Linked DNA regions of Homo sapiens. The protein of the gene in region 1 binds, or shares a complex with, the protein of each later gene. Each region holds a gene or a part of one and is shown in the gene's direction. Other genes may lie near its edges. The genes, in order: GINS4, MCM5 and CDC45.

The links.
Region 2: GINS4 (region 1) and MCM5 share a complex: the UniProt entries of both Homo sapiens proteins name them as parts of the CMG helicase complex.
Region 3: GINS4 (region 1) and CDC45 share a complex: the UniProt entries of both Homo sapiens proteins name them as parts of the CMG helicase complex.

The regions. Positions count from the first base shown.
Region 1 is NC_000008.11:41,529,980-41,540,517, forward strand, and holds part of GINS4 (DNA replication complex GINS protein SLD5), read left to right. Parts: intron 1-204; 5' UTR 205-223; coding exon 224-319; intron 320-4,325; exon of another isoform or gene 4,326-4,431; intron 4,432-6,380; coding exon 6,381-6,467; intron 6,468-7,091; exon of another isoform or gene 7,092-7,200; coding exon 7,201-7,314; exon of another isoform or gene 7,315-7,331; intron 7,332-9,698; coding exon 9,699-9,796; intron 9,797-9,936; coding exon 9,937-10,025; intron 10,026-10,538. UniProt on the Homo sapiens protein: Required for correct functioning of the GINS complex, a complex that plays an essential role in the initiation of DNA replication, and progression of DNA replication forks.
Region 2 is NC_000022.11:35,413,602-35,424,139, forward strand, and holds part of MCM5 (DNA replication licensing factor MCM5), read left to right. Parts: intron 1-273; coding exon 274-385; intron 386-2,227; coding exon 2,228-2,371; intron 2,372-2,737; coding exon 2,738-2,803; intron 2,804-3,036; coding exon 3,037-3,213; intron 3,214-4,142; coding exon 4,143-4,255; intron 4,256-6,282; coding exon 6,283-6,411; intron 6,412-7,716; coding exon 7,717-7,859; intron 7,860-9,612; coding exon 9,613-9,740; intron 9,741-10,538. UniProt on the Homo sapiens protein: Acts as a component of the MCM2-7 complex (MCM complex) which is the replicative helicase essential for 'once per cell cycle' DNA replication initiation and elongation in eukaryotic cells.
Region 3 is NC_000022.11:19,508,073-19,518,610, forward strand, and holds part of CDC45 (cell division control protein 45 homolog), read left to right. Parts: intron 1-457; coding exon 458-619; intron 620-6,676; coding exon 6,677-6,815; intron 6,816-6,892; coding exon 6,893-6,976; intron 6,977-8,454; coding exon 8,455-8,573; intron 8,574-8,741; coding exon of another isoform or gene 8,742-8,744; coding exon 8,745-8,821; intron 8,822-10,538. UniProt on the Homo sapiens protein: Required for initiation of chromosomal DNA replication. Core component of CDC45-MCM-GINS (CMG) helicase, the molecular machine that unwinds template DNA during replication, and around which the replisome is built.

The DNA.
Region 1 (10,538 bases):
TTGAGAAACGGATACCTGACCTAAGCCTTGGAGGAAGAGGCAGACACTGGAAAACTAGAGTCCCTGCGTTCTCTCACCACTTGCTAAAGGGCCTCTACAACCCCAGGAAACCTCAATAAACCTTTCCTTTCTCCAGATAGATGTCTGTTCTTGCAGATAATTAGAAAACGCATTGCAGAGTATTGGTTCTTTCCCTCTCATTAGGTTCCTGGTTTCAGAGAAGATGACCGAAGAAGTGGATTTCCTGGGACAGGACTCTGATGGGGGTAGTGAGGAAGTGGTCCTAACTCCTGCAGAGCTCATTGAAAGATTGGAGCAGGTAAGCATCCCAGATCGAATCCCTTTGCTCCAGTCAGCCTTTTTATTTAGTTCAACTGTGAATATCAGGGATCACAAGATGAGGAAACGGAATTTGGGGCTTACTTTAGAACAGGGACTGGATCTTACCATCTACATGGAAACGGGAAGCAAGAAGGACATCCTCTGTTAGAGACCTCATCATATCAAACACAGCATCCCCAAGTGGGGTCAGTAAGGGACAGCTTTGGGCACATTCAGTGAACAGTTCACAGAGCAAGGATCCACGTGATATTTTCAGGGACTGTAGAGGTCCCTGAACTTCTTTACCTTAGTCCCTTGAACATCTGCTGTTTCCCTGGAGAATGCCTGTTTAGCAAGAAAATGCTGAAATGCCTGTAAGGGAAAACTGGTCATATTTTTCCTTTTTCTCACATGTTTTTTCTTGAGTCGTCTGCTCTCCATATGTCCACTGCTTATCTAAAATCCTTTCTGAAATATTTCTCCTTTAAGTTGTAATAGCTATGACTTACTGCATATTTCCCATGTGCCAGTAACTGTGTTCTTTACACTTATATCTCATGATGCTCTGGTAACAGGAGTTCAGACTATCTGGATTTAAATCTGTCTGTGACACTCCTCTGTTATGTGATCTTGAGCAAGTTAGGGAGTTTGTCTCAAGCCGTTGCTTGCCTATAAAATTGAGACAATAGGGCCGGGCACGGTGGCTCAAGCCTGTAATGCCAGCACTTTGGGAGGCTGAGGTGGGCGGATCACCTGAGGTCCAGGAGTTCGAGACCAGCCTTACCAACATGGTAAAATCCCGTCTCTACTAAAAAACAAAAATTAGCCGGATGTGGTGGCGCATGCCTGTAATCCCAGCTACTCGGGAGGCTAAGGCCGGAGGATCACCTGAACCTGGGAGGCAGAGGTTGTGGTGAGCCAAGATCCTACCCACCATTGCACTCCAGCCTGGGCAACAAGAGTGAAACTCCGTCTCAAAAAAATAATAAAATAAAATTGAGATGATAATAGTGTCTATGTCCTGGAGTTTTTGATTAAATGTGGTAATTGTGTAAAGCACTCAGCATGCTATCTGACACATGATAAGCACTCACTAGATGTGAGCTGTTCATAGTAAGTATCCTTATCCTCTTGCTCTAACTGCCCCTTTCCAGAGCTCTCTCATGTTTGCTACTTTAGTATTCTTCATTCTTCCCTGCCATACATGATATCACGAATGACAAAACGGAACTAAAATGATTTTTAAATTATACCTTACATGATAATCCTTACTATTTAGCAGTGATTCTTAATCTGTTTTTATATCACAGACCTTTTTGAGAAACTGGTAGAAACTGTGGTCTTTCATCCCACAATAACGCACACATGCACCCATGCAGAATTTTGCATATGACTTCCAGGGGATCAGAGATCCCCTGAAATCCACCCACAGACCTAGTTTGTGGAACAGCATTAAGAATTCCTGGTTCGTTAGGAAAGGGTTCATTAAACAAAAATCAAAAGGCACATAGCATAAAGGAAAAAAGGGATACATTCCTGGAGTGCAGTGGTGTGATCTTGGTTCACTTGCAGCCTCCACCTCCCAGGTTCAAGCGATTCTCCTGCATCAGCCTCCTGAGTAGCTGGGCCTACAGGTGTGCACCACCACGCCTGGCTACTTTTTGTATTTTTAGTAGAGATGGGGTTTCACCATATTGGGTTTCGCTGTGTTGGCCAGGCTGGTCTTGAACTCCTGACCTTGTGATCTGCCTGCCTTAGCCTCCCAAAGTGCTGGGATTACAGGCATGAGCCTCTGTGCCCAGCCTGTTTGTACTTCTGGATTAGAGTGAAAAGACAGGCCACCAGGCTGGGAGAAGATATTTGCAAAATACTAATATGTAGCTGACACAAGATGATTATCCACAGTACATAAACAGCTCTTTCATACTGCCCAGTACAGACTGATACCTCAGAGAAGAAGAAAACAGGATGACCAATAAGCATATGAAAAAGATGTTCAACCTTTTTAGTAATCAGGAAAATGAAAATCATGAGATATCATCTCATATCTATCAGATTGGAAGAACTGAAAAACGTGAGCAATATAAAGTATGGCAAGAATGTAGAGCAGCTGAGCGCAGTGGCTCATGCCTGTAGTTCTAGCAACTCAGGAAGCCCAAGTGGGAGGTTCATTTGAACCCAGGAGTTTGAGACCATCCTGAGGATCATAGCGAGATCTTATCCCAAAAAGAGAAAATTAAGAATATAGGGCAGGCCGGGTGCGGTGGCTCACACCTGTAATCCCAGCACTTTGGGAGACCGAGAGGGGCGGATCACCTGAAGTCAGGAGTTCAAGACCATCCTGGCCAACATGGCGAAACCCCGTCTCTACCAAAAATACAAAAATTAGCCAGGCTTGTTGGCATGCCTGTAATCCCAGCTACTCAGGAGGTTGAGGCAGGAGAATCTCTTGAACCCAGGAGGTGGAGATTGCAGAGAGCCGAGATCATGCCACTGCACTCCAGCCTGGGCAACAGAGCAAGACTCCATCTCAAAAAAAAAAAAAAAAAAATGAAGAGCAATTTGCACACTTATATACTGCCGTGGGATATAAATAGGTATAATCGCTTTGGAAAATAATTTGTTATTGTCTAGTAAAGATGAAGGTGCACATACCTGCGGCCCAGTAGTTCCACCCCCAGGTACATACCTAGTGAAAACTTCCGCATGTACTCTAGGAGACATCCACAGTATGTTCACACATTGCTTGCAATAGTTAAAAATTAAAATAACCTAGACAACCGTAAACAAATAGCATTGAGAAAATATACCATACACAGTGGGAATAAAACAGCAGTGAAAATGAGTAAAATAACTCCTGAAACAGCATGAATAACAGGAACTTAATGTAGAACAATAACAACCATAAAATATGAGCTGCCAAAGAAACACTTTATGTAAAGTTCAAACTTGCAAAATTATTGTTCAAGGCAGAGCCGCCACCCTTGGGTGATGTGGCACACTGCTATGCCACAGATGCCTCTGTGTGGACCCCTGCACCTTCCAGGACAGCTGGAGCCCCAGGCTGGTTACTTTTTCAAGTGAGCATCATCGGGGTCCTTGAAAGGCAGCTAGAGGATGGGGCGGCGGGGGTTCTGACAGCACAGCTGCAGCTTGCTGGTGGGTAAGCTGCAGTAACATCTCATGCCTGATGCTCTAGTGCAGTGCCCTGAGTGCAGCCAAGGAAGTGACCCGCCACCTGCACGGCTGCCACAGCCAGATCCTGTCTCTTATGCTGTGTGGCACAGCCAAAGGGACAGCCTGACAGGGCTGCTGATGAGAACAGCTCCAGGAGCATATATAGGATACCCTTTAATGCCTGTAAAAAGTGATTTAAAAGTTGTTACCTGTAGTGCAGATTTGCTCATTTTAGTGATTGTTTTAGTTTGCTAGGGCCACAGAGCGAAGTCCCAAAGACTGGGTGGCTTAAATAGAAATTTATTTTCTTAATTCTAGAGGCTGAGGTCAAAGTGCCAGCATAGTTGTCTTCTTCCGAGTCCTCTGTCTTGGGTTTGTAGGTGACCATATTCTCCCTGTGTCCTTGCATGGTCTTCCCTCTCGTGTGTGTCTGTGTTAAAATTACCCCTTATCAGGGCACCAGTCTTACTGGATTAGGGGCCATCCTAATGACCTCATTTTAACTTAATCACTTCTTTAAAGACCTCCATCTCCAAATACAGTCACGGTCTGAGGTCCTGGAAGTTAGGTAGATTTTTGAGGGGCGGACACACTTCAGCCCGTAGCAATAATGAACAGATTGGCATTTAGAATTTTGATCAGGGGCCAGGCACAGTGGTTCAAGCCTGTAATCCCAACACTTCTGGAGGCTAATGCAGGGGGATGTCATGAGGCCAGGATTTCGAAGACCACTGTAGGCAACATGGTAAAACCCCATCTTTATTAAAAAAAATTTAAAAATTAGCCAGGCTTTGTGGTATGTACCTTTAGTCCCAGCTACTCTGGAGGCTGAGGCAGGAGGATCACTTAAGCCTTGGAGGTCAAGAATGCAGTGAGCCATTATCATGCCACTGTGTGACCAGAAACCAGATGTAGCCATTTCAAGCATAAAACCTGAGTTAAAAAAAAAAAAAAGATTGGATTTAGATACAAGTTTCTCAGTAAAAATTTTGGAAAGATTTATATGAAAGTTTTATACTAATATAAACTTCCACCTAATGTTTTATACTTTATTGTCATAATTTCATAATGTAAATGAAGTGGTCCCCAATACTACCCCAGTGTACCAGACAAGCACTATCATTTTCTTTGAATATCCTGTCATGAACAGGTTGAGAGGTGTTCTACAGAGATATGAACAAATGTAGTGAGACCATAAAGAAAATTCAACATGAAATTCAAGCTAATGATTACCTCTGAGGAGGGAGGGACACACAGGGTCTTTTTTTTTTTTGAGATGGAGTCTTGCTCTGTTGCCCTGGCTGGAGGGCAGTGGTGCAATCTTGGCTCACTGCAACCTCTGCCTCCCAGGTTCAAGCAGTTCTGCCTCAGCCTCCCAAGTAGCTGGGACTACAGGCGTGCCACGCCCGGCTAATTTTTTGTATTTTTAGTGGAGACGGAGTTTCACCATGTTAGCCAGGATGGTTTGATCTCCTGACCTCGTGATCCGCCTGCCTCGGCCTCCCAAAGTGCTGGGATTACAGGCGTGAGCCACTGCACCCGGCTTGTTCTTGTAGTTTTAAAAATTATTCAGTATTTGGCTGGGCTCGGTGGCTCACGCCTCTAACCCCAGCACTTTGAGAGGCCAAGGCAGGTGGATCACTTGAGGTCAGGAGTTCAAGACCAGCCTGACGAATACGGTGAAACCCTGTCTCTAATAAAAATACAAAAATTAGCTGGGCATAGTGGCACATGCCTGTAATTCCAGCTACTCGGAAGGCTGAGGCAGGAGAATCACTTGAACCCGAGAGGCAGAGGCTGCAGTGAGCTGGGATCATGCCTCTGCTTTCCAGCCTGGGCAACAGAGTGAGACTGTGCCTCAAAAATAAATAAAAATTATTCAATATTTAATAAAAATCAATCAAAAAGAAATGCTGCTCCTAATAAGCCCTCCAGAAAATATGATGTTTTCCCATGCATTATGCAGGTTTTTTTTGTTTGTTTGTTTCAGTCTGCAGGACTGTTACAGATGCTCAGGCTCTGCACAAATGCCTATGACTGTAGCCATACCCAGCATTTGGTAATGTGTCTTGACGGTGATCATGGGGAGAAGCAGACACTCAAGGACGTCAGAAAAAAATAAGTTGAGCCTGGTCAGCATATAATTCTGAGCTATGCTAAAACTACATTTCCTGTAATTGAAAGATAAGTGTAGCTTTCCTCAGTCACTTAGGGATATTTCAGTTCTCTAAGCCTTGGAAGTCTCTAAAATGAACCAAACAGCTGGGCCTGAGTCATAAATTAGAGCTTTAACCTCTGGCTCCAAAACTCCATAATAGATGAGCGCCTGTTTCTATTATGATCCTGTATACTTTGGGGCCATTAGTAAATTACTCAATCTGTATTTTTTCAATCAGATGAGGATAACTATATCCATTTTCTCTGAGATATGATGATGATGAATGAAAAATATTTGTGAAGTGCTCTGAGCTTCAGGAATGAAGAGCTGTGTGGATTGGTGGGTTATTGCTTTCTCTCTAAATAGACATGGGGTGGCGCTGCCTGGGGGAACAGTGTGCCCGGGCTGCCTGGCAAAGGCACTATTTGAACACCAGGTGGTGTCACTCTCAGCACCAAGCGTCACACTAACTGAAGTAAGCAAGGGTTTGTATGAGTGTCAGTTGAATAGAAGGTTGTGAACACAGCCTCCCAACTAAAACAAGACACGAGAAAGCAATCGCTAAACGTAGTTTGTCTTCAAAACACCTTCAATGTTTCCAGTTGGTGGGCAGACAGTTTTCTTGCCTGCGCCATCCCTGGTTTTCGTTGGACTTGGGCTGACTCACTGGGTTGTTTAGCTCTGTGGTGGGTGATGCTTGCTTTTTCTGGCATTTGTCTTTTAGGCCTGGATGAATGAAAAGTTTGCCCCTGAGCTGCTGGAGAGCAAGCCTGAGATTGTAGAATGTGTCATGGAACAGCTGGAGCACATGGTAAGAGTCGCTTGTCTTGGGTTGACAAAGGAGGAGAAAGGTAAAAGCATTTGGTCAGCACACTGAGAGCTTGTGGTCTGGTAGCAAATCTGTTTTGTTTGGCTCCACTCACAGTCCAGTTCTTTAAAACAACATTGAATTAGTTATCTATGTTTATCAATCTTGAGAGTGCCTGTAAATATCTGGATATTGGCTTCCCATGAAAAGTCTAAAATCCTGCATTTCTGCATGAGAACAGTTGACCAGAGCAGTCCCATGAGAGCTGTCCATCCATGTACTCCCTGCTCCCCACAGCCCCTGACTACCCACCCTTCTCTTGTAGCCTCCCCACCTGGCCCCTGCAAACATTTGAGTTTGTGGTCCCTGGCCTAGATGATCTGAGCATAAATCATTGTCAACTTCAGAGAAGCTGTAAAATGTGGATATTTCAGTTTCTCAGCTGGTGTTTTAATACTGCTTTTTAGACCCAATGGAAGTTTCGTCTGTGTGCTGTACTATCTCCCTTACAATCAGATTGGAGTTCTTTTGGAAGCCTCTGGCTGAACAGATTCTATTCAAATGGTCATTTTCTAAAAGTAAATGACTATTGTTTGTACTTTATACAATGATAAAATGAAAACTCACATGATATTTTTGTTTTCCTTGGACTGAAACATAGTCTGGGTCCTCAACGTTGCCGGTGATGATGGTTGAACATCATGTTTTTTATAAACCTTAATTTCTCATTTAATAGGAAGAAAATCTCAGGAGAGCCAAAAGGGAGGACCTGAAGGTCAGCATCCACCAAATGGAGATGGAGAGGATCCGCTACGTCCTCAGCAGCTACTTGCGGTGTCGCCTCATGAAGGTTTGACGTGGAGATACCTGGAGGGATTGAGACAGCACAGTCTGTAATGCAGACTGAATGTCCTGGGGAAAACTTGGGCTGGGGCCCAGGAGGGTCCAGGACCTGAAGATGCTGCTAAGAGCCCAATATCCATGTAGCTAAACTGTAAGGAGAGCGAGAGATTGCTCCACAGAAGCACAGAGGAACGTGTGTGGCCCACTGCGGGGACACCGCACACATTTTTAGTCTGTTCACCTGCCGAGTGAGTGGTTCCCCCTTGCGTTACAGCATGGCAGTGCTAAAGGGAGAGTTGTTGGCATTGGTCAATAGTGAATGCTGACTAGAGGAGAACTTGTTTCCAAAATTATTTTGTCTGTCAGATGGCCAACGTCAGTGTCAAATGAACCAGGATGACTTACATTCACCTACAGCTTTGTGGCTATCTAACTTACAAAAATGAAGTTGCAGGCCAGGCGTGGTGGCTCACACCTGTAATCCCAGCACTTTGGGAGGCTAGGCGGGTGGATCACCTGAGGTCAGGAGTTTGAGACCAGCCTGACCAACAAGGTGAAACCCCATTTCTACTAAAAATAAAAAAATTAGCCAGGCGTGGCGGCAGGCGCCTGTAGTCCCAGCTACTCAGGAGGCTGAGACAGGAGAATTGCTTGAACCCAGGAGGTGGAGGTTTCAGTGAGCCAAGATTGTACCACTGCACTCCAGCCTGGGCAACAGAGCGAGACTCCGCCTCAAAAAAAAAAAAAAAAGAAATTGCAAAACATTCCTAGTTTATAACTCTGAGAAATTCTTACTTCCTTGACATTTCATTTGGTTCTATGTGTCTCTTTAGTTATTACAAATAAGATAAATTATCTCTTCTACATGAGAATGCTTCAGCTATCTGAAGACTGCCCACAGTCTCCTCGAAGTCTTCTCTCAGGCATACATTTTAGCCATTCAAACCATTTACTCTCCTGGTCTCTTCTCTAAAAGGGTTCTTGTTTGTCTCTATCCTTCTTAAGTTACACTATCTTAAACTAAACACAGTATCCCAGTTGTAGTTTGACCAAGTTTGTGAAAAACAGAATGATCATTTCTCTTATTCTGGTTATTAAGCTGGTAGTAATGCCAACCACATCACATTAGCATATTTATCACATTAGCATATTGACAGGTACGCTGCCTGAGCTCATTCTTCACTCACGTGGACACTAACCCCTTTTAAGATGATAATTACCCCATCCAGTCACTGTCCTCTACTTGTATGGCTTAGGTTTTGGCTCCTTAAGTGTAGGGCTTGATACTTATCTCTCTTAAGCTTTATCTTATTAAATTGGGCCATTTCCCTTGTCTCTGGATGCTGATCTTGTCACCTAATGTATTAGCTGTCTCTTAATACTTTATGTCATCAACCCCCTTTTTTTATTTGTTTGGTTGTGTTTTTTTGTTTTTTTTGACAGAGTCTCACTCTGTTGCTCAGGCTGGAGTGCAGTGGCGCGATCTCAGCTCACTGCAACCTTCGCCCCCCAGGTTGACGTGATTCTGTTGCCTCAGCCTTCCAAGTAGCTGGGATTACATGCCCCTGCCACCAGGCCCAGCTGATTTTTAGAAGAGACAGGGTTTCACCATGTTGGCCAGGCTGATCTCGAACTCCTGACCTCAGGTGATCCACACCCACCTTGGCCTCCCAAAGTGCGGGGATTACAGGCATGAGCTACTGTGCCTGGCCCACATAAGGTTTTTGATGGCATGCTTACCAAAGCTGGTGATGACCAGTTACAGGCTCACGCCTATAATCCCAGCACTTTGGGAGGCCAAGGCAGGTGGATCACCTGAGGTCAGGAGTTTGAGACCAGCCTGGACAACATGGTGAAATCCTATCTCTACTAAAAATACAAAAATCATCTGGGTGTGGTGGTGGGTGCCTGTAATCCCAGCTACTTGGGAGGCTGAGGCCGGAGAATCACTTGAACCCGAGAGTTGGAGGTTGCAGTGAGCTGAGATCACACCACTGCATTCCAGCCTGGACAACACAATGAGACTCCATCTCAAAAAAAAAAAAAAAAAAAAAAAACCTTATGTGATTATTAATTGGACTGTGGCAAGGGTCTTTCACAAAAGACTTCCCTACAGTTTGACATCTACCCATTGAGTCAGCATTCTTTTTTCAGCCACTTAGGAGTCTCCCAATCCAAGCCGTCCCCTAGCCCCAGGTCCATAGCTTGCCTGCAAGGGTGTCTCAGAGACGTTGTCCTGTGTCTTATGGTGTGTCTCTCCACCCACCCTATCCCACCTCCAGGCCACATGTCCTTCCTCGGGAGGGTTGTGTAAACCCTCTTTATGTTAACCACATCCTTCTCTTTGACTTTTGCCAATGTTTTCATGAAGATTTTGCTTTATCCTCACAGATAGAGAAGTTTTTCCCTCATGTCCTTGAGAAGGAAAAAACACGTCCTGAGGGGGAGCCTTCCAGCCTCTCGCCGGAAGAGTTGGCCTTTGCCAGAGAGTGAGTGAGTGAGCCGTTGGCGTGGGGCACCTGGCTGGTTCAGCATGAGGCCTGTCCTAGAGGCCTGTGCGCTGCTGCCTGCTAACCTTGGACGTCCATCAGCTGTGTACACCACAGCGATTTGAATCCATGTCTTTCAGGTTCATGGCGAACACAGAGTCCTATCTGAAAAATGTCGCCTTGAAGCACATGCCCCCTAACTTACAGAAGGTGGACCTCTTTCGGGCAGGTAAACAGGACGTTCTCCCTGCAGGTGGCCCACCCATCCTCAGGTGTCCCAGGGTAGGATCCTCTCTTCACTGTTTTTACCCAAATACAAAAAAGTAAGTATGTAGATAAACAGAAAGAAGAGCAAGGATTCTAGCTAAAAACCAAAAAAATCACGGAAAGCAGATCCAATGGTAGGCATTTGAGCATTGCTTCCTTGTTCCCTGGGGTGGGCTGAGCCCCATGACTGCACTGGTGCTTGTAGACTCGGGCATGGAGCCGCGTTCGCCTTCAGTAGCCATCTGCTGAGCCTCTGTGAGGTGCTGGCAGCCCCGAGTACCAGCACTGCAGAGCCTACACCAACATTGCCCCTGCTTAGAGGGGCTGGCCATCTCTTCGTCACAGGTCCCAGAATGCACAGGGCTCGCCTAGCTGGAGGGGAGGGCTGAAACAGGAGGCTAGGGAGACCTCCAGTGAGTCCCTGTGGCCTCAGAAGAGGGAGCAGGTTGGAGGGTGTGGAGAGAGGAGGGAGGGG
Region 2 (10,538 bases), on another chromosome or scaffold:
GTACCCGAGCACAGCCATAAGAGCCATTTCCTTTAACCCTCCTCTTCTGGGAGGCAAGCTCTGTCCTCATTGCTAGGCAAGACCTACCATGGTTTGGGAACTACAGAGCTGGGTAGGAACATGGGTCTCAGGCCACAGCCACTACCTTCTTACCAACTCTGAGGCCCATGATAGTTGGGGGAGTCAACTGCCAGCCCACCAATCTGGTGACTGGATGTCACATGCGATGCCCTCATGGATTCTCACCTTGTCCATCTACCCTTCGTCCCCCAGGCTCCCTGATGGACTTACTCGCCGAGGAGACATCAACCTGCTGATGCTAGGGGACCCTGGGACAGCCAAGTCCCAGCTTCTGAAGTTTGTGGAGAAGTGTTCTCCCATTGGGGTGAGTGGCCTGGGATACCTTTGCCACCTTGGCTTGCAGGGAGGAAGGCTGCAGGGCAGGGCCTCTGGGTCCTCAGGACACCTGTGGTGGGCTGGCTCACCCGGAATCTCTTCCTCCTTTCTCTTGGCTGCGGTCAGGATGGCCGAGGAGATGGGAGGAAGAAGGGAGCCAACAGGTGTATGTAGGTTTGGGGCAGGGGGCGAGTACACTGTACTGAGAGTCAGGATGGGGTTTGGGTCTCACCCTGGCCAGAAATTGGCTGTGGGCTTTGAGTAAGTCACCCAATCTCCCTGAGCGTCAGTTTATCCATTTGCTAAATAATGATATTGTTATCATTAATAGCTAAAATCTGGCTGGGCATGGTGGTTCATCCCTGTAATACCAGCGCTTTGGGAGGCCGAGGTGGGCGGATTGCTTGAGCTCAGGAGTTTGAGACCAGCCTGGACAACATGGTGAAACCCTGTCTTTACCAAAAATACAAAATAACTAGCCAGGCGTGATATGCACCTGTGGTCCCAGCTGCTTGGGAGGCTGAGGTGGGAGGATCACTTAAGCCCAGAACGGGGAGGTTGCAGTGAGCCAAGATTGTGCCACTGCACTCCAGCCTGGGTGACAGAGTGAGACCATGTTTCAAATAATAATAATAAATAATAATAATAATAATAATAGCTAAAATGAAGGGCCAGACACTGCTTGAAGTACTTTGCATATATTTACTTAGTCTTCACCTCAACTGTGTGGCAGGTACTATTACCCCTGTGTTAGGGGTGAGAAAACTCAGGTACAGAATGGGTAAGTGTCTTGGCCCAGGTCTCACTGCTGGTAAGCATTAGAGCAGGATGTGATTGAACCCAAGTGTCTGATGAGCTGGGTCCTCTGCTGCGTTGTTGAATGGGTCTGCGGGGATCAGAGCCAGAGAAGGTCTGACATGATCCGAGTGGCGGGGTTGTATAGGGCGAGATGGTGGTCTTTGGATAGATAGGAAGTGTGCCAAATTTGCCACACTGGCACTGTCCAGTAGAAATAGTGAACTGCACATGCGACCCATGTATGTCTTCTCAGATTGTCTAACAGCCACATTAAAAAGTAGCTGGGTGCGGTTGTGTGCATACCTGTAGTCCCAGCTACTTGGGAGGCTGAGGTGGGAGGATCACTTGAGCCCAGGAGTTTGAGACCAGCTTGGGCAACATAGCAAGACCCCGTTTCAATTTAAAAGGAAGAAGGGGAAAGAAAAAAGGAAAAACAGGTGAAGTTACTTCTGTTTAACTCGCTATATCTAAAATCTCATTTCAACATGTTGTTTGATATGTAGATTATTGAGATACTTTACATTCTTAGGAGCTCTGAGTCTTTGAAATCGTGCGTATTTTGCACGATTAAGGACATCTCAGTTAGGACTTTCCCAATTTCAGGGGCTCTATGGCAGTATGTGGCGTGTAGGTCTATATAGAGACGACAAGGGACTCACGATGGGGGCAGGCTTTCCCTGGGAGTCAGGAGTCCTCATCCTAGCCCTGAGGCTAACTCCTCTTCTCTGGGCCTCAGTTTGCTCATCTGTGAGTTGGGCCTCACAAGACTGTGTCACAGGGCTGTGGTGAGGCTTAGGTGAGCCATGGATGTGATGCCCTCAGCGGGGAGAACATCTGGGCACACCGAGGCCCAGGGCAGCATCCCCTTCCAGAGGGAGACGCACTGAGTTGGAGCCTTGAGTCCTATTCTGTACCCTGCAGCCAGCTTTGATGTGTGACCTTGGGCAAATCACAACCTCAGTGGGTCTTTTTGTCTTATGGGGGTCAAAGCATGGAGTTGTTATTGGGCCCTGACACCACCCCACTGCCCCAGGTATACACGTCTGGGAAAGGCAGCAGCGCAGCTGGACTGACAGCCTCGGTGATGAGGGACCCTTCGTCCCGGAATTTCATCATGGAGGGCGGAGCCATGGTCCTGGCCGATGGTGGGGTCGTCTGTATTGACGAGTTTGACAAGGTGAGTCTGATGAGGTGGGTAGTAGCCAAAAGGTGGGTGGCACCAGGGTATGTGACTTCCTGTGCTCAGCCAGCAGAAATCACCTCTGACTTGGGAGACATGTTTTCAATCCCTGGGCCGGTCACTCTAGTAACTGTGGGAAGCTGCTTAACCTCTTCAAGCCTCAGTTCCCATATCTGAAGAGTGGGGAGAAGAAAGGCAAGCCCACACAGTTGTTCCCATGATTAGAGGTGACCTGGTTGCTGCCATTGGCCTTGCGTGGAGCTGGTATTCAGGAGTGAGGGCTGCTGTTAGTTTTCCTGTTTCTACTGCTCCCTGCTCCCTCACTTCAGTAGGTCTGATGATATTTCTCTCTTCCCCACTTAGATGCGAGAAGATGACCGTGTGGCAATCCACGAAGCCATGGAGCAGCAGACCATCTCTATCGCCAAGGTGAGTGGCCCTCCATGGAGAGCCCAGCCTGCAGCAGCCCAGCGTGGCCCAACCGTCCTCAGGCTGCCCTGATTGGGACCAAGTTCTCTTTGCCCAGGCCTAGAATCTGTGTGTGTGTGTGTGTGTGTGTGTGTGTGTGTGTGTGTGTGTGTGTGTGTGTGTGTGTGTAAACGTGTATATAAGAAGGCATCTTTGCCATCTCCTCCCCCTTTTCGTCGTCTGTCGCCTGTTAGGCTGGGATCACCACCACCCTGAACTCCCGCTGCTCCGTCCTGGCTGCTGCCAACTCAGTGTTCGGCCGCTGGGATGAGACGAAGGGGGAGGACAACATTGACTTCATGCCCACCATCTTGTCGCGCTTCGACATGATCTTCATCGTCAAGGATGAGCACAATGAGGAGAGGGATGTGGTACGTCCAGGGGCAGGGCTGGTGGCCATGGGACCTGCCTCCAGGCAGGCTTGTGATTGTGTGGGAAGGAGAATGGAGAACAAGGGCCTTGGCTGGCAAAGTCCTGACTGTCAGGCTGTGAAATTGGGGAGCACGTGAGAGGGCGGTTGTTGTGGACTGCAGAGGATTGAAGCAGGGTCTGGAGTCCTGTGGCCTGCTCTGCCTCTGCCGTGAGTGATAAGCTGTGTGATTTGGGCTAAATCAGTTTCTCCCTGGGCCTCAGTCCCTTATATATGAAACAGAGGAGTTGACATTGGGTTATGAGTAATAGAACCTCAGTTCTGGTTAGTAAATTTTTCAAAGAAAAAAACATAGTGGTTTATAGAATTGGTAAGTCCGGCGGCTTAAGGCCCAGGTAGATCTGGATTCTCAAACAACTGTCTCTGCCTTTCTGTTCTGCTTCCCTTGGTGGAATCTTTGTACTTGGGCAGCTGTTCCTCTTGTGGTGGCAAAGACAAAATAAGATTTTGTCCTGTTAGCTTGTAGCTTAACAGCCCCCAGGAAAGAGGAGGCCCCGTCTTTTCCAGTACTTCTATCAAAAGTCCCAGGATAGACTCCTATTGGCTTGGGTAGATCCTATGTCCATGCCCAAGTTGGGGTGGACAAGATACATGCCCCAAGTCGGGGTGGACAAGCTGAACCCACCCCTTTATGGACCAGGGCAGAGGAGCAAGGAGCATTAAGTTCTCTCTAAAGGAGAATCCAGATGCTCCCATCAGAACGAGGGCCTGGTGCTGAGCAAACAGGCTGAGCACGCCTGAGATCTCAGCACCCTTTCCGGCTCCTTGATGCCAGGGCCCCATCAGCTCTTTCTGGCTGTTCCACCTCAGTGCTGGGACTCAGGCTTGGGACGGCCTGTGGGATGACCCATTATCCCCTCTGCTCTCCAGATGCTGGCCAAGCATGTCATCACTCTGCACGTGAGCGCACTGACACAGACACAGGCTGTGGAGGGCGAGATTGACCTGGCCAAGCTGAAGAAGTTTATTGCCTACTGCCGAGTGTGAGTCCTGGACGCAGGCCCACGGGGGTGAGGTTGCCCAGCTTCCCTGGGTGGGAGAGAACCCAGTCCCCTGGTCCTGCTCCTCCTCATGAAGAACAGCCCAGATGTTGCTGTTCTGAGGTTCTCAGCTCTACTGAATCTGCTCTGCTCCCTTCTAACCTTGCGTAGCTCACTGGCTCTTGGCTTCAGTTTTCCCACCTCCACACCAAGGAGGTGGGATTTAGATGGTCTTGAAGACCTCCTCGAGTCTGACATGCAGGGAGGCAGTGAAGTGTAGACATGGTAGACATGGGCTCTGGGTCATACCTGCCTTCACTCTATGACTTTGGGCAAGTTGGTTGGCCTCTCTGAGCCTTGATTTCCCCAGGCCTATCGATGTTTGCTAGGATTTTTGTAAGGATTGCACAAGATGATGAGTAAGTGCTTGGCATAGCCCTGCCCTGGGTAAATACTCAGTGAGTCGCAGCTGCAATTTGATTGTTCTCACAGATTTTCAATAATAATAATTATATACATAGTACTGGCTGGTTGCAGTGGCTCACGCTGTAATCCCAGCACTTTGGGAGGCGGAGGCAGGTGGATCACTTGAGGTCAGGAGTGCGAGACCAGCCTGGCCAACGTGGCGAAACCCCATGTCTACTAAAAATACAAAAATTAGCCGGGTGTGGTGGTGCACACCTATAGTCCCAGCTACTCAGGAGGCTGAGGCAGGAGAATTGCTTGAACCCAGGAGGCAGAGATTGCAGTGAGCTGAGATCGTGCCATTGCACTTCAGCCTGGGCAACAGAGTGAGACTCTGTCTCAAAAAAAAAAAATATATATATATGTGTACACACACACACACACACACACACTCACTCTTACACACTACTTTCTTTGTGCCAGGCATTCTGAATTACTATTCAGTATTTTCTATATGAATAAATTATAACCCTCCCCCAAAACCTACCAGGTAAGGTGTGCTATTATTCCCTTCCCTTTATGGATGGGGAAGCTGAGGCAAAGGAAGTTAAGTAACTTGCCCAAGGTCACATGCCAGAGGTAGTGGAGCCAGGATGTGAACCCAGCTGCTTGCCTCCAGAGGCTGTGCTCTTAACCACAGTGCTTCGATTCTTGTCGTACAGCGCTTTGGTGATCTTTTGAAGGAGCTAAAACCCAGGGGTTGAGGGCTCTTTGAATGCACTACCAGTGGGGGGCTGGTGGGTCCCTGATTCAGCACCTCTGCCAGGGTGAGTGGGTAGTCCCTGGGTCTTCATCCAAGTCTGAGCTCTGTGTGGCCCAGTCTTGAGAGGCTTGGGCCCACAGCTGTGAGTCAGGGAGCCCTGGATTCTAATCTTCCCTCTGCACTAAGTCCCCAGGTAGCCTTGGGGAGTTCCCTCCCTCCCTCTGGGTCTCAGTCTCCACATCCTTAGGATGGTTGAGCTAAGGCTTTCCCTACATCAGTGACTGTCAGTTGGCCTGGGGGCTAGAGGGGAGGGGATGGGATAGGGTAGATGCTGATCAGACTTCCCCACACCTACCGTCCCAGGAGAGTCTGAGGTGCTCCCAGCCCCTGGACTGCAGTCACCGCCAAGCCTCCTGTGGGTGTCATCAGCTTGTCGTGTCTTCAGATGTGTTGGGTGGAGGAGTTTGAGACTGCTGCAAAGCCCACCACCCAGTGGGCCTCCATGCCGCTGTGATTGTGCCATTGTTCATTACATGTATGGGGGACCTTGTGGCAAGACACCACACAGCGTCTAACAGTGGGGAAGAGGCGGTTTTCACCCTGCAGACGTGCCTGGCTTTTCTTCACCTGTTTTTTAAGAGAGGCACCCATATTTCTCCCCAGTGTTGATGTTTGTGGCAGCTGCCCACAGCCAGATTTCACTTAAATCTTTTCCGATTGTTGTCCCCCAGCCCATATGAGTGGGCAGCTGTGGTGTGGTGGGAAAGTGCATGTCTGTAAGCTGGCAGGGGGCTGGGGGAAAGGGTAGGTGCCCTAAGAGTCCCTCCTGGCCTCACACCAGCCTCTCCCCACTGTCCTGCAGGAAGTGTGGCCCCCGGCTGTCAGCAGAGGCTGCAGAGAAACTGAAGAACCGCTACATCATCATGCGGAGCGGGGCCCGTCAGCACGAGAGGGACAGTGACCGCCGCTCCAGCATCCCCATCACTGTGCGGTGAGCAGGCGGGCAGGGCTGGGCCATGGCAGATGGGGCTTGCTTTACACAGCAGGGTGTGCTTGGCAACCAGGGGCAGTGGTCCAGGCTTTTCACTTGGCACAGGCCCATAGTAGCTCTGGGCAGGAAGAGTCCCTTTGGAGCATAAACTATGGCCTCCTTGATCTCAATGATGATCCATGTTTCTTGATTTAAGGCCGGGCAAACCTAGACCCCTCTTGTCTGAATTTGGCCTGGCTTCTCCCATTGTAGGAAGCCCGAAGGGAGGGAAGGACCCAGGCCTGGGAGTCAAGAGTCTTGGGTCCCAGCCTCTAGCCCACTGTGTGACTGTAGGGAAATTACATTCCTTCTCTGGCCCTCAGTGCTTTTAGCTCCTAACTCTGTTCATTCTTGTGACTTTGTAGACAATACAGTGGGTAAGAGTTGGGATTTACCTGGTTTGAATCCTGTCTCCAGCACTGACTGGTTGGAAATGGATTTGGCTATAAGTAATGGTAAATCCAGATAAAGTAGCTTAAAGAAATAGGAAGTTCATTTCTCTTTTCTGTAGCACTGTCTGGAGGAAGATGGTATGGGGACTGGTGTGAGGACTCCTCAAGCTCCCCCTTACTCTTAGTCCGAGATGGCCGCTAGAACTTCAGCCATCACCTCCAGGCAGCAGGACAGGAAGGAAAGAGAGCTTCCCTTTTAAAGGACACTTCATGAAGTCCCACACAATGCTTGGACTTACAACTTACTGCCATAGATTGGTCACACAAATACAACCTGGTACAAAAGATGTCTGGGATGTGTTTTAGTGGATCGCTGTGTGCCAGACTAAAAACTGGGGTTCCAAGCTAGGTGCAGTGGCCTACATTGTGATCCTAGCACTTTGGGAGGCTGAGGCAGGAGGATTACTTGAGGCCAGGAGTTTGAGACCAGCCTGGGCAACATAGCAAGACTCCCATTTCTACAAAAAATAAAAAATTAGCCAGGCATTGTGGTGCATGCCTGTAGACCCAGCTCCTCAGGTGGCTGAGGTGGAAGGATCACTGGAGCCCAGGAGTTCGAGGCTGCAGTGAGCTATGATCATGCCACTACATTCCAGCCTGGTCCACAGAGCGAGACTTTGTCTCAAAAAAAAAAAAAAAAAAAAAAAATTGCAGTTCTATGACTAAGATCAAAAGGGAGATGGATTATGGGGACACCTAGCAGTCTCCACCACAGTCTTACCACTTTGGGCAAGCACCTCCCTGGTAACGGGCTGGCTGGGGAGGAAGGGAATAGCGGACCGAGGCTACCCTGAGCACGCTGTTGCCCCCACAGGCAGCTGGAGGCCATTGTGCGCATCGCGGAAGCCCTCAGCAAGATGAAGCTGCAGCCCTTCGCCACAGAGGCAGATGTGGAGGAGGCCCTGCGGCTCTTCCAAGTGTCCACGTTGGATGCTGCCTTGTCCGGTACCCTGTCAGGTGAGCAGATGCAGGGGCCATGGTCTCAATTGATCTGGGTTCCCTGGCTCGGAGCTCTGTGGGCAGGGCTCTGGCCTGCTGGGGGCCTGCAGTGTGTGTCTTGCTTCTCTGAGTTTGCTGAGCTTCTCTGAGTTTCTTTTTGCCATAAGACCCCTCTCCTCCTTTCTCCCCACCGCTGTTTCCTCCAAGATGGGAAGAAGCAGCTTCTCTCCAGACCCTTGAACACAATCCTCTTGACCCAGGTCATTGATGATAACCCTTCTCACTGGCTAGGAACAACAGTTGATGCTCTGCTTCCTAGAGCTTGTCAGCATTTTCAGTGCTTCCAGAGTTATTTCTTGCATTTTGCCTTACAGCTGCCCCCTGGAAGCCAGGTGAGCAGTCAGTCCTGCCCATGTTAGAAATGAGACAGCTGACACTCGAAGGGGCCTTTCCCTGGTGCCCAAGATCACAGTCGCTTGGCTGGAATGCAAGTCTCCTGGCCCCTAGGCCAGCGTTTTCCACACCATAAGCCATACTGTCTGGTTTCGGTCAGCCTTTCAACAGACTGTCCCAGGCACCGATCATGAGCCAGGCTACCTACGCTGGGGAAAATCTGTTCCTTCACCCAGCAGATACTTCATTAGTGTTACTGTTTGCCAGGCACTGTTCTAGGTGCTGGGAGTATAAGAGCAATCAATCACAGGGTCCCGGCCCTCCTGGGTTCTCATTCTCGTTCTAGTTGGGGAGAGATAGACAGTAGAGAAACAAATGCAGGTAGTGTAGGTAGTGAAAAAGGCAGTGAGGGAGATGATGGCAGGGCCAGGTGTGTTGGAAAAGGAGGACGTGCTCTTTCCCATGGAGTGAGTGGGCATGGCCTCTGCAAGGAGGTGATGCCAAGCAGGGAGCTGCATGAAGGGGACAGTGTGGCTCCTTGGGGGAAGAGCTGCTCAGGTGGAGGCAGCGCTAAGTGTCAGTTTCCCCAGGAGGGAGCAGGTTTGGTGCATTTGAATGGGGAGGCACTTGGGTGAGGAATGGGGTGGGTGGGGCCTGTTCCTCCTGTCCCCCTTGGTGAAGACTCAGCCTCTACCCTGGAGACACTTGCTGTCACATGAGACATTGCAGGTGGAGGCCTCTGGGATGCTGCAGGCACAGAGGGCAGGGGTGATATGGAGTGGTGATAATTTGAGTTGGGTCTTATGGGCTATGTAGGAGTTTGCCTCACAGACTCCCCTCTCAATGACTTCTTGACCATGAGCCCACCATCTCCTTAGCTGAAACACCAAGGCCTCTGTGGCAGTAATTGGAAGTCACGAGCCTCCTGGTTGCCGAGGGCTCCTCAGGGCACCTCGTAGATGTGTCCAGGGCAGGCTGGCTTCCCTCCTGGGTCACTGATGGGCCCCTTCCAACTCTCTCTCTAATCTATCTGCTCCAGCAACAAAAGGAGTCCTGCTGTGGCCTCCAAGGGCCCGCAGGACTTGGTCCCTAGTGACACTCTGGCCATGTCTCTGCTGCGCTGGGCCCCGGGCTGCTTTTTGAATGAGACAGGTGTGTTCCTGCCTCTGTGACTTTGTGCTTGGCCTGGAGTGTCCCCACATGTGCCATATCCTGTCTCCTCAATCAGGCCTGCACCACCCTGGCACACTCGGTGCCCTTTTCTGACTTACTCTTCGGGGCCTGGCTCAGGCTGTTCTTCCTTGGGCTAGAGGCTGTCTCTGTCCAAGAACTCCCATTGTCCCAGCTCCCCGGCTGCCTCACTTCTCCATGCCCACAGGGGTGGAGGGCTTCACCAGCCAGGAGGACCAGGAGATGCTGAGCCGCATCGAGAAGCAGCTCAAGCGCCGCTTTGCCATTGGCTCCCAGGTGTCTGAGCACAGCATCATCAAGGACTTCACCAAGCAGGTGAGCCTGCCTTGGAGTGGGGGTGTGAGCCGGCACGGGGTGCAGGTCTTCTGCTGGTTCCCACCCACTCAGCACTGGCATCTTACTCAGCAGACAGGCCCTGAACGGGGGTAGGATGGACAACTGTCCCTTTCTCAGACCTTTTCTAGCCATCATTCCTTCCCTAGGGACATCTTCATCAGGAGCAGGGATGGGGGTATTTTTTCTGTCCCACGAAGGGGAGGGGAGAGCAGAGGTGGTTGGATTCTGGTGAAACCCCATACAAGTTCCCCGCAGCCCTTCCCGTCTGTGCCTTTCCCCGTTGGCGGGCGTTTCATGGAGTGGGAAGGGGCAGAGCCATGAGAGTGAGCTTTCTGGCTCACTGAGGAGGGTACTGTTGGCCCCATAGAGAGAAGATGGGATTTCCCAGATGCTCTGGAAAACCTGTCACCTTTAAAATCTCAGGATTAATCCTAGTTTCTGGTCTCCGCTCCTTGTACATCATCTCATTTTGATTCAGGGCAGTTTAATGGGTGGTATCGTGTCTATTCTATAGGTGCGCAGACTGAGGCTTAGAGAAAGGTTTAGAGCTTCGGTTCTAGAGTCAGATGGGACTTAAGTCCCAGCTCTACCTCTTAATTGCTGTGACCTTGAGCAAGTGGCTTAGCCTCCGTGTGCCTCAGTGTCTGGTACACAGTGGGCACTCAGGAAGTGTGGGCCCTTTAGGTCAAAGGAGCCTGAGTACAAAGTTCCCCGTGAGCCTGGGGATGTCTGGGCTCTGTCGGAGTCCCCTCGGGCAGCACGTGCCGTTAGCCAGCC
Region 3 (10,538 bases), on another chromosome or scaffold:
TAAGACTTCTTCAAGCTTGTGAGGTTTAGGATCCTAGGATCCTTGGATCCTAGGGCTGCTGTGGGACCTGTGAGGTCGACCCCAGTCTGTTTCACTGGAGACAGCAAATGGGCCACAGGGCCAGGTTCAGGTGAACTCTGCCCGACCAAGTCCATGGGCACTCCTGGAGGCCCCTGGCTTCTCCCACCCCAGCCAGCTGGCATGCTAAGGTGTGAGAGAGGACCCCACACACCCCCTAAGCCAGCCATAAAGCTGTTGACAAGAAGGCACCCGGCCACTCTGGGCTGCAGGGCTGGTATGTCTGGACGTTCTGACCTGCCTCATCCTCTGAGCAGCATGGCTGTGCTGGAAGCATTGACTTGGGCCTGTGAGGGACATTAGCACATCTGTTGGCCTGCCTGGCAGTGAGAGCTTGCCCACAATTTGAGGGTGACAGCTGTGTTTGCTCCCATGACAGGATGAAGGACATGCGCGTGCAGACTTTCAGCATTCATTTTGGGTTCAAGCACAAGTTTCTGGCCAGCGACGTGGTCTTTGCCACCATGTCTTTGATGGAGAGCCCCGAGAAGGATGGCTCAGGGACAGATCACTTCATCCAGGCTCTGGACAGCCTCTCCAGGTAGCAGGAGGGCTGTGGGTTTGCCTCATGGGGCCACCACTGGTTCTCACACTGCCCAGGGAGGTCAGTTACGGGGACCCCAGGGCTGTGGGAGTGACTGTGTCCTGCAGAAACTGCTTGGGTGAACTGGAATCACAGTGCCAGTGTGGTGTGCACCTGACACATTACCTGCCCCTCTTCAGTATTTGTCACTTTCTCTTGAATCTTTTTTGGCTTTTTTTTCTTTTTGATTTTTAAAATTTTCTCTTTTTTTACCTTTTGTATCTCTTAACAAAAGGCATTATTTGTTATGTATATTCGTTCTTGTGTTTAATCTTATAGTTGTCATTTCTCAATTTTTTAATTTTCCAATTCTTTCTTATCTCACTTCCTGAGATGTCCTATATTTTTCCATGTCTTTTCGCTTGTTTTGAAATGGAATGTGACAATTTGGATCTTTTTTTTAGCATGTCTGTCTAGTGTCAGACTAAAGACATCAGAGAAAAATATCTCCAAATACACTGAATTTATTTGGGAATTAGAAAAGAGGATTATAGTGTCTGCGATGCACAGCTATGGCAAGCCAAATATGCATCCAAAGAGAGGAGGCTAAGGGGACACTTTTATTGGCAAAAGGAGAAGTTCACGAAAGCTAGCTTGGAAACAATTCATTGGTTTCAGAGACTCAGAGCCAGAGTTGGCGTCAGTTCAGTGGTGAAGATGCATTACTGGGCAAGTGTTATATTTTAAGAGCATCTTATCTGAATTGTTGCAGTCCTAAAGAAGGGATTTCTTGTGGGGTTATTTAGAAAGTCTTTGAGTCTTTATTCCAGACATGCAAGCAGGAGCTCTCCTTGGTGCTTTCCCAGCTTTAATTTGTTTGGGCCTGTCAAAAAGTGATTTCATCCTGGGATCTGCAACTTTCACATTAGTGTACTTTCATTATCCAGAGAGGTGTTATTCTGTCCCTTATTCTCTTTTTTTCTAATAGTGACTTTGAGGGGATTTGACTTTGCTACTTCTCTCATGCTTTTTATGTATAAATTTCATTTCCCTGACTTTTTAGGAGGAGGAGGCATGATTCAGACAGCTTTTCTGGCTTCACAGAGCTGCCACTTCTGTTGCTTTTGTGCAGTGGTAAAGATGCATATGTATATATGGGGGCCTGCTTTCTGGGATTTCCTGGTTCTGCTCCCAAGCACACTTTTTTTTCCACTGCTTTATTGAGATACAATTTGCATGCCATACAATTCACCCATTTAAAATGTACAATGTGATGGCTTTTATTTATTTTATTGTTATTTTTTTAGAGACAGGGTCTCGCTCTGTTGCCCAGGGTGGAATGCAATGGCATGATCATAGCTCACAGCAGCCTTGACCTCCCAGTCTCAAGCAATCTTCCTACCTCAGCCTCTTGAGTAGCTGGGACAACAGGTGCATGCCACCACGCCTTGCTAATTTTAAAAATTTTTGTAAAGATGTATCACTATGTGGCCCAGACTGGTCTCAAATTCCTAGGCTCAAGCAATCCTTTCACCTCAGCCTCCCAAAGTGCTGGGAGGAACAGGCATGAGCCACTGTGCCCAGCCTGCAATGACTTTTAGTAGGTTGCAGTTAGGTTTTGCAAGGTTGTGCAGCAATCACCACTATCTAATTTTAGAGCATTTTTGTTGCCCCAGAGAGATCCTCCCAGCCTCTGGCAACCACCAGTCTCCCTTTTGTCTTTATGAATTGGCTGTTCTGAGCATTTCATACAAATGGGATCATATAAGATATGGTTCTTTGTGACCGGGTTCTTCACTTAGCATCATATTTGCAAGGCTCATCTATATTGTAGGATGTATCGGGATTATATGTCTTTTCCCTCGTCCGCCACCTGAGACAGAGTCTCACTCTCGCTCAGGCTGTAGTCCAGTGGCACGCTCTCGGCTCACTGCAACCTTCGCCTCCTGGGTTCAAGCAATTCTCCTGCCTCAGCCTACCGAGTAGCTGGGATTACAAACGCATGCCACCAAGCCTGGCTAATTTTTGTAGTTTTAATAGAGACGGGGTTTCACCGTGTTGTTCAGGCTGGTCTTGAACTCCTGACCTCTTGATCCACCTGCCTCGGCCTCCCAAAGTGCTGGGATTACAGGCATCAGCCACCATGCCCGGCCAGTGTCTTTTTATTATAAATAATATTCCATTGGATGGATATATTCTATTTCATTTATCCATTCATAAGTTGATGGGCATGTGGTTTGTTTCCACCTATTGACAATTATGACTAATGCTGCTGTGAACTTGCATGTACAAGTTTTTGTGTAGTCATGTCTTTGTTTCTTTTGGTTATATACCTACATGTGGAAATGCTGGGTGACATGGTAACACTAGGTTTCAAGGAACTGCCAGATTTTTGAGGAACTGCCAGACTTTTCCACAGCAGCTGCACCATTTTACATTCCCACCAGGAGGGAGGGTTTCAATTTCTTCACATCCTCACCGACACTTGTTATTGTCCATCTTTTGGATTACATTCATCCTAGTGAGTATGAAGTGGTATCTCGTTATGGTTTTGATTTGCATTTTACTGATGACTAATAGTGTTGAGCATCTTCTCATGTGCTTATTGGTCATTTGTGTATCTTGTTAGGAGAATTGTCTATTCAAGTCCTTTGTCTTTTTTTTTTTTTTTTTTTGAGACAGGGTGTCACTCTGTTGCTCAAGCTGGAGTGCAGTGGTGCAGTCATGGCTCACTGCAGCCTCAAACTCCTTGGCTCAAGCCATCCTCCCACCTCAGCCTCCTGAATAGGTGGGATTACAGGCATGAGCTACCACACCTGCTAATTTTTAAATTTTTAGTAGAGATGAGATCTTACCATGTTGCTCAGGCTGGTCTCAAACTCCTGGGCTCAAGCAGTCTTCCAGCCTTGGCCTCCCAAAGCACTGGGATTATAGGTATGAACCACCGTGCCCAGCCTAAAACTTTTATATATTCTACATACAAATCCCTTATCAGATAAGTAATTTGCAAGTATTTTCTCCCATTCTGTAGGCTGACTTTTCACTTTGGCAGTGTCCTGTGAAGTATAAGATTTGTTAATTTTGATGACATTTAAGTTACCTACTTTTTCTTTTGTTTCTTGTGCTTTTGGTGTCATATCTAAGAAACCATTGCCTAACCCAAGGTCATGAAGATTTCACATTATTTTTTCTACTAACACTTTAATAGTTTTAGCCCTTACATTAGGAGTATGATTCACTGGAGGTTTTTTTTTTTTTTTTTTTTGAGACAGGGTCTTACTCTGTCACTTAAGCTGGCATGCAGTGGCATGATTTCCACTCACTGCAACCTCTGCCTCCCAGGTAGCTGGGACTACAGGCATGTGCCACTGCACCTGGCTAATTTTTGTATTTTTTGTAGAGACATGTTGGTCAGGCTGGGCCCCTTACTCTTTACTATAGTCTCCTTACACTTCAGCAAGGCCCCTTGCTCTTTACCATGCCCCCTTATACTTTACCAGGCTCCCTTGCTGTTTAACAGGACCCCTTGCTCATTACCAGGACTCCTTGCACTCCAGGGAGGCTCCTTAAACTTTCCCTTGGCCCACTGCACTCACCTGCTCTTGCATAGGGCAAAACTCTCAGTTTGGGCCGCTGCTCTCCAGTTGCCTGGAGTTTTAAGTCTTCTTAGGTCTCACTACCTCTTGGCTTTCTCTCGCACTGATGTAGATAGTATACCTGTCTGGCTGTTCATGGTCTCTTTTTACCTGCTTACACTTTGGGGTTTGAAGTGTTCCCTTGTTCTCTTAATTTGTTGCAAATGTGGGTCCTAGGTTTTTGGTTTTGCAATCTAGTTGCTCTACTTTTATCTAGAAATTTGGGAAAATCCAAAAACTATTTTACCACTGTTGCTGCCATCATCCCAGCATTGATGGGTAGGCTTTAGACATTGTCTACCAACTTCCTGCTATGACAAAGGAGCATTTATCCCACTCTTGTCCACCTTCCCTCCTGTTGGTACAGTTTTGCCACTATTTTTAACTTCTTTGTAACTTTAACATATTTATGTCTTCTTTCATCACTAGTATCTCGTCTCCCTACTTTGTAAGAAAAGGATATTTAAAACACTCTTAGTCCATTTTGTGTTGCTATAAAGGAATACCTGAGGCTGAGTAATTTATAAAGAGAAAAGGTTTATTTGCCTCATAATTCTGATGGCTGGAATGCTCAAGATTGGGCATCTGCATCTGGTGAGGGCCTCAGGCTGCTTCCACTCATGGCAGAAGGGGAGCTGGTGGGTGCAGAGACCATGTGGCAATGGAGGAAGGAAGAGAGAGGAGGAAGGTACTAGGCTCTTTTTAACAACCGTCACGGGAACTAATAGAGTAAGAACTCACTTACACCCCCTAGCCCCAGGGAGAGCATTCATCTATTCATGAGGGGTCTGCACCCATGACCCAACACTTCCCACTAGACCCCACCTCGAAGATCTTGGATCAGATTTCAACATGAGGTTTTGAGGGGACAAATGTCCAAGGTGTAGAAACAGCCTTACTTTGCTCTTCAGTGCTGCTCAGTACTTTCTGAAATTTGTGCTTTTACGTTTTCAAGACTGATAACAATCTTGGGTTAGAGAAAAAGATATAAATTGTCTTATCTTTGGTTACAGGTTGATTTTAAAAGTTGAAAGTAAACAAATAGTTTTACTTTATTGTGCTAATAAACTATTCCAGAGACAATCATGTGTAGTAATAGATTACTATCTGGCACGGCTCTTTGTTTTTCCTGCTGTTTTTAATTGCCTCCTTTATCACATCCATTTTTTTCTCCTCCAAACTCCTTCCAGCTGTTTTTCTGTGAGCCCCTTTTTGCTGGAGAGTCTGGGGTTCTGTCTTCCCACCACAGCCTGGACCTACAGCTCTCTAGACCTGCTTTCCACTGTCCCCATGGATGTCCAAATCTTGGCTGTGCCTCTTAGTTTAGTCCAATGTTTCTTGGGATCTTCATCTTTGTTTCATTTACTCCCTCATTAAATTAGAGCACAGTTCTTAAGTAACATTCAAAGAAAGGGCGCATGTGAGATAAACTTTCTGAGTTCTTATATATCTGACAATATCTTTATTTTACTATTTCTTTACTATTCCCCCCACAGAAAACATCCGTGTTTTTTATTCTTGCTTTTCAGGCTTCCTGGAATGACGATGCTCTGTCTTATTTTTTTGCCTTACATTTTCCATAGCTTTGTCTTGTTATCTATGTTGAGGAAGTTTTTCTTGACTCCAGACTTGGAGTGGATGTTTTATCTTTTGCAACTGTTTTAATTTCCATCAACATTTCCTAGTTTTTAACTCTTCCTTTTTCATAGCATCCTGTTCTTGGTTTAGGAATGTAAGAGTTGCACACATCTCTCTGAAGATACTAATTAGAGTTCAGTTTAACTTTCTTTAGTTCTCCAAATTATCTGTTTCTTCAGGGTTATTTTTTTAGGCCATAGGCATTTCTCAAATGGTCTGATGTCTTTCATATTCAAGAACGGGATTGTGGACCCTTGGCTGGGCCATGGGTATCTGGGCACAGCTCACTGGTCATAAGACATCGTTTCACCTTAGCAGGCAGGAGCCAACTGTGACACTTTGGGACTCCCCACTGTAGGGCCCAGAGGCTTTGCTTGAGGATTCTACTTATTCACAGATGGTACATTTCATATACTCAGAGGGGAGCCTCCCTTTTTGTGGGGAAGAGTAAAAATCTATCTGTTGGGTTTGAGGGGATCCCTTGTCCAACCTCCAGCCCTTGCCCAAGCCTCCCCTGTGTCAGAGTCCTCCTGGGCCTTCAGGATCTTCCCTTTGTTGGCTTTTAGTTTCCTGTCTTCTGATACTTGCACCCGCTCCACCTCTCATTTGCATTACTGTGGGTTTATACATTTTAAAAAATTCTTTCCTTTCATGTGAAAGACAACTCAGGAGGGAAAGAAGATAAATTCTTACCCCCAAACCTCTTCCTGAACCAGGAACCAAGCAAACTATTTGTGACTTTGGTATTTTACCAAGAGTTCCTGACAAGCACCACCAAAGCCATGTGTCTGCCCTGTTACAGGAGTAACCTGGACAAGCTGTACCATGGCCTGGAACTCGCCAAGAAGCAGCTGCGAGCCACCCAGCAGACCATTGCCAGCTGCCTTTGCACCAACCTCGTCATCTCCCAGGGGCCTTTCCTGTACTGCTCTCTCATGGAGGTCAGGCTTCCCACAGAGCACAGGCGCCTGGTCACAGCACCAGTGGCTTCGTCTGACCATCTGTCTCGCCTCCGCAGGGCACTCCAGATGTCATGCTGTTCTCTAGGCCGGCATCCCTAAGCCTGCTCAGCAAACACCTGCTCAAGTCCTTTGTGTGTTCGGTGAGGGGCCAGGCGGGTGCTGTGGGTACAGGAGGGCAGGTGCTTGGAGAGCTCCCTGGATGGGGAGTTAGATGCTGGCCTTGGGGTGCCTGTGGCTGTTGACCAGCTGCAAGGTCTAGGCACATCCATTACTTTTTCTGAGCTGTCTTTTTCTCAGCTGACCCCTAGGAACCTTCCAGTTCTCTCAAGCTCTGATTCATCACTGGCTGTCTAAGTCACTCAGACAAGTAGGGAGGGGCCCTTGCAGAGTGAACAGGGCTGGGGCTTGTGTCCTATTGTTGCAGGTCAGGGAAAGCGGGATGGTTGTAGCACCGACTGGCTTCCCAGCAACAGCTTGTCCACTAAGCTGATTTCCTGTGCCTGGCTTTGTCTTCTGTGTGGCCTAACCCCCTCTTTGCGTTGGCGTGGAACACACTCCTAACTTGGCTGGCTTTAGGGCAGGGGTCCTCACCTAGCCGACATGGGGCTCCTCCCAGATGTGACATGTCAATAATTGAAGTCCTCCTCTGCTTCGAGGATGAGAGTTTATGCCGGGGGCTATTTCAAACAAAATGTGCTAACAGGAAGTTGAACTTTTCTTTTGCCGCTGAACTAACCAGTAAAATGATGACAGATGACATGTGTTCTATCAACCAGGTAATGTCAAAGATAAACTAGGGACAGAGCATGGGCCTTGACGTCCTCTAGGCTGTGTTCAAAGATGAGCCTCCTCATTTGCCAGTTGTGTGACGTGAGGTAGATGATCTGACCTGATCCTCAGTTTCCTCATCCGTGAAATGGGTGAACACATACCCACTTTACAGGATCCATTCATTTACCAGACATGTATTGAACATCCACCACCTGCCCGGCCCTGTTGTGGAGTGACTGCCCATCCTGGTGCACATCCTGGGACACCCCTCAGTCCTAGACACACCAGGAATACTGGTCACCTGGGCTGTAGGGTGTGGGTGCAGCAGGCACAGCAGAGAAGGAAACCCTAAACCTTTATCCTGAAGGAGCGTGCCGGCGGGGGGGACGAGGAGTGGCAGCTGCGGTTAAGATGAGGGGATGTGCTGCCAGGGGATGGAGCAGGATGAGGCGGGGTGGGCTGGGGCCTCCTGGAGAAGGTGGCAGCTGCTGCAGGACCTGAAGGAGGTGAGGGAGAGGATAGCAGGGCAGGCTCCTTGCAACAAACAGCCAAGGGGCAGTGGGGCTAGGCTGGTAGACAAGGAGGCTCGGGGACACAGCATCACAGCCACAGTACCATGCTGTGGGTACGGGAGGGCAGGTGTTTGGAGAGCTCCCTGGACTGGGAGTTAGACACTGGCCTTGGGCATCTAACTTGGGGTGGCTGGGTGGGGACCAAGGCGTCTCCTGGTGACAGCGTCCCTGGAGGCTTTGGGGAGTGGAGTGACTGGGCGCTGTTGGGCTCTGGGCTCTGAGTGTTGAGCTGGGGCCCACCATACCCTGACGGAGGGTGCTCTCCGACTCCATAGACAAAGAACCGGCGCTGCAAACTGCTGCCCCTGGTGATGGCTGCCCCCCTGAGCATGGAGCATGGCACAGTGACCGTGGTGGGCATCCCCCCAGAGACCGACAGCTCGGACAGGAAGAAGTGAGCAGCTTCCACTCGTCCTGGGACTGGAGGGTCGGGGGTGTTGGGGTTATCAGCTTATTAGCCCTGCTGAGTAGAGTGGTATTTGCCTCTAGTGTCTGTCCTGGGGCGGGGGGTGGGAAGGGTCCATTGCAGGCCGCCTGGCCCCCGACATGTCTTGTGTGTCAGCAGCTTTTTTGGGAGGGCGTTTGAGAAGGCAGCGGAAAGCACCAGCTCCCGGATGCTGCACAACCATTTTGACCTCTCAGGTGAGAGTCTCCTGCCACTCTGCCACACTTTCCCACCTGACCCTTTGAGGCTATTGCAGGCCCTGGAACCAAGCAAGTTGGCATGGCTGGAGGAGCCTGGCCAGCAGCCCTCTTGACCTTCCAGATCTGGCCCTGGGACAGGCTACTCCTGGTGGCTCAGGGAGCTCTGGTGAACCTCAGGCCCCTGAGAGGGAAAAAGTGTTTTCCAGGGAATGACTGGCCTGGCTGTGGCCTTACAGCGGCCTTACAGCCAGTGCTAAGGATCACTTTCCCAGCAAGCCTAGGGGACTGGCCACCAGGGCCCGTGTGCCCCGATCTCACCTGTCAGGGTTGGGTTGTTTCTGTTTCATGGGGTGAGGGAACAGCAGGGCCCGTGATGACCCAGGACACCAACCCTTGCTGCGCCAGCCACCTCTCCACAGGCCGGGGTGTGTGTCGTGATAGGTGCTACCTGTGAGATGGCTGGGACACCGGCCCCACCTGTGTGTCAGATGAGCCCAGAATGGATAGGCCTGCCTGCCCACTGCTTCCCCAGCACCAGCACGGAACATGGTTCACATTCGGCTGTGTTGGCGTTCTTATTATTGTTGACAGGTTTTAAAGTAAAACAGACGTATTGATATTTCACCCCGGGTTAGTTTGCTAAAGCTGCCATAACAAAGTGCCACAGACAGGGTGGCTTCAACCACGTGTCTCCTCCCAGTCCTAGAGGCGAGAAGGCCCAGGTCAAGGTGGGGCAGGGCTGGCTTCTCCTCAGGCCTCTCTCCTTGGCTCACACAGATGACCACCTTCTCACTGTGTCCTCACGTGGTCTTTCCTCTGCATACCTCCTTGGTGTCTGTGTCCAAACCGTTTCATCTTCCAAGGACACCAGACAGATTGGATTAGAGCCCACCCTAACAACCACATTTGAACTTAATTACCATAGTCACATTCTAAGGTCCTGGGGGTAAGGGCTTCAACATAGAGATGTGGGGGAGACCGTTCAGCTCATAACACCCTCAGTACTTCCTGCACCTCTGAGAAAGGATATTTTCTTGCCTCATCACCACGGATTCCTCAACAATGATAGACACTGTCATGGGAGATCCAGCCTTTGTTGAAGTGGCGTCAGCCATCTCAGAGCTGCCTTCCTTGAGCCAGACCCAGCCATGGCTGTGGCACTGTGTGGCATTGGTTCACCCCGCACAGCAGCCCCTGCTAACTCTTTTGTGCCTGTGATGTGGGAGAGGTGGATGGACACCCACTGGCCTGCAGAATATCTGGCCTTCAGTATACAGGGAGGACTCGGGCTGGGAACTGCTTGGTTTCCCTGAGGGTGGAGAGCCAGGGGTGAGGGTGCAGAGTGGGCCATGTCTAGTGCCCACCTGCGTGGGCTGGGTCTGGGGCTCTCGGGGCTGTGGCTGGCAGCATAGATGGCTCCCAGGGCCAGGCCAGCCCCATCCTGGGGCCTGGTTTTGCTTTGTGGTGAGGGTCTGGGTGCTCAGCTGAGCCTGAGGGCCCTGTGAGATATGGGCAGTTTGCACCATGTCCCCTTGTGCGGAAGAGAACACTGAAGCCGAGGAATTGGCCAGAGTGCGGCCAAAAGTGACCTGCCCCACCCAAGGACTTCCACAACCCACTCTGGGGACGGGGGTTCATGCCAGCTGGGGTGGGCAGGCCCGTGTTTGTCCAGGTCTGTAGGGCCCTTCCCTGTGTCACCTCTATTGTCTTCCCG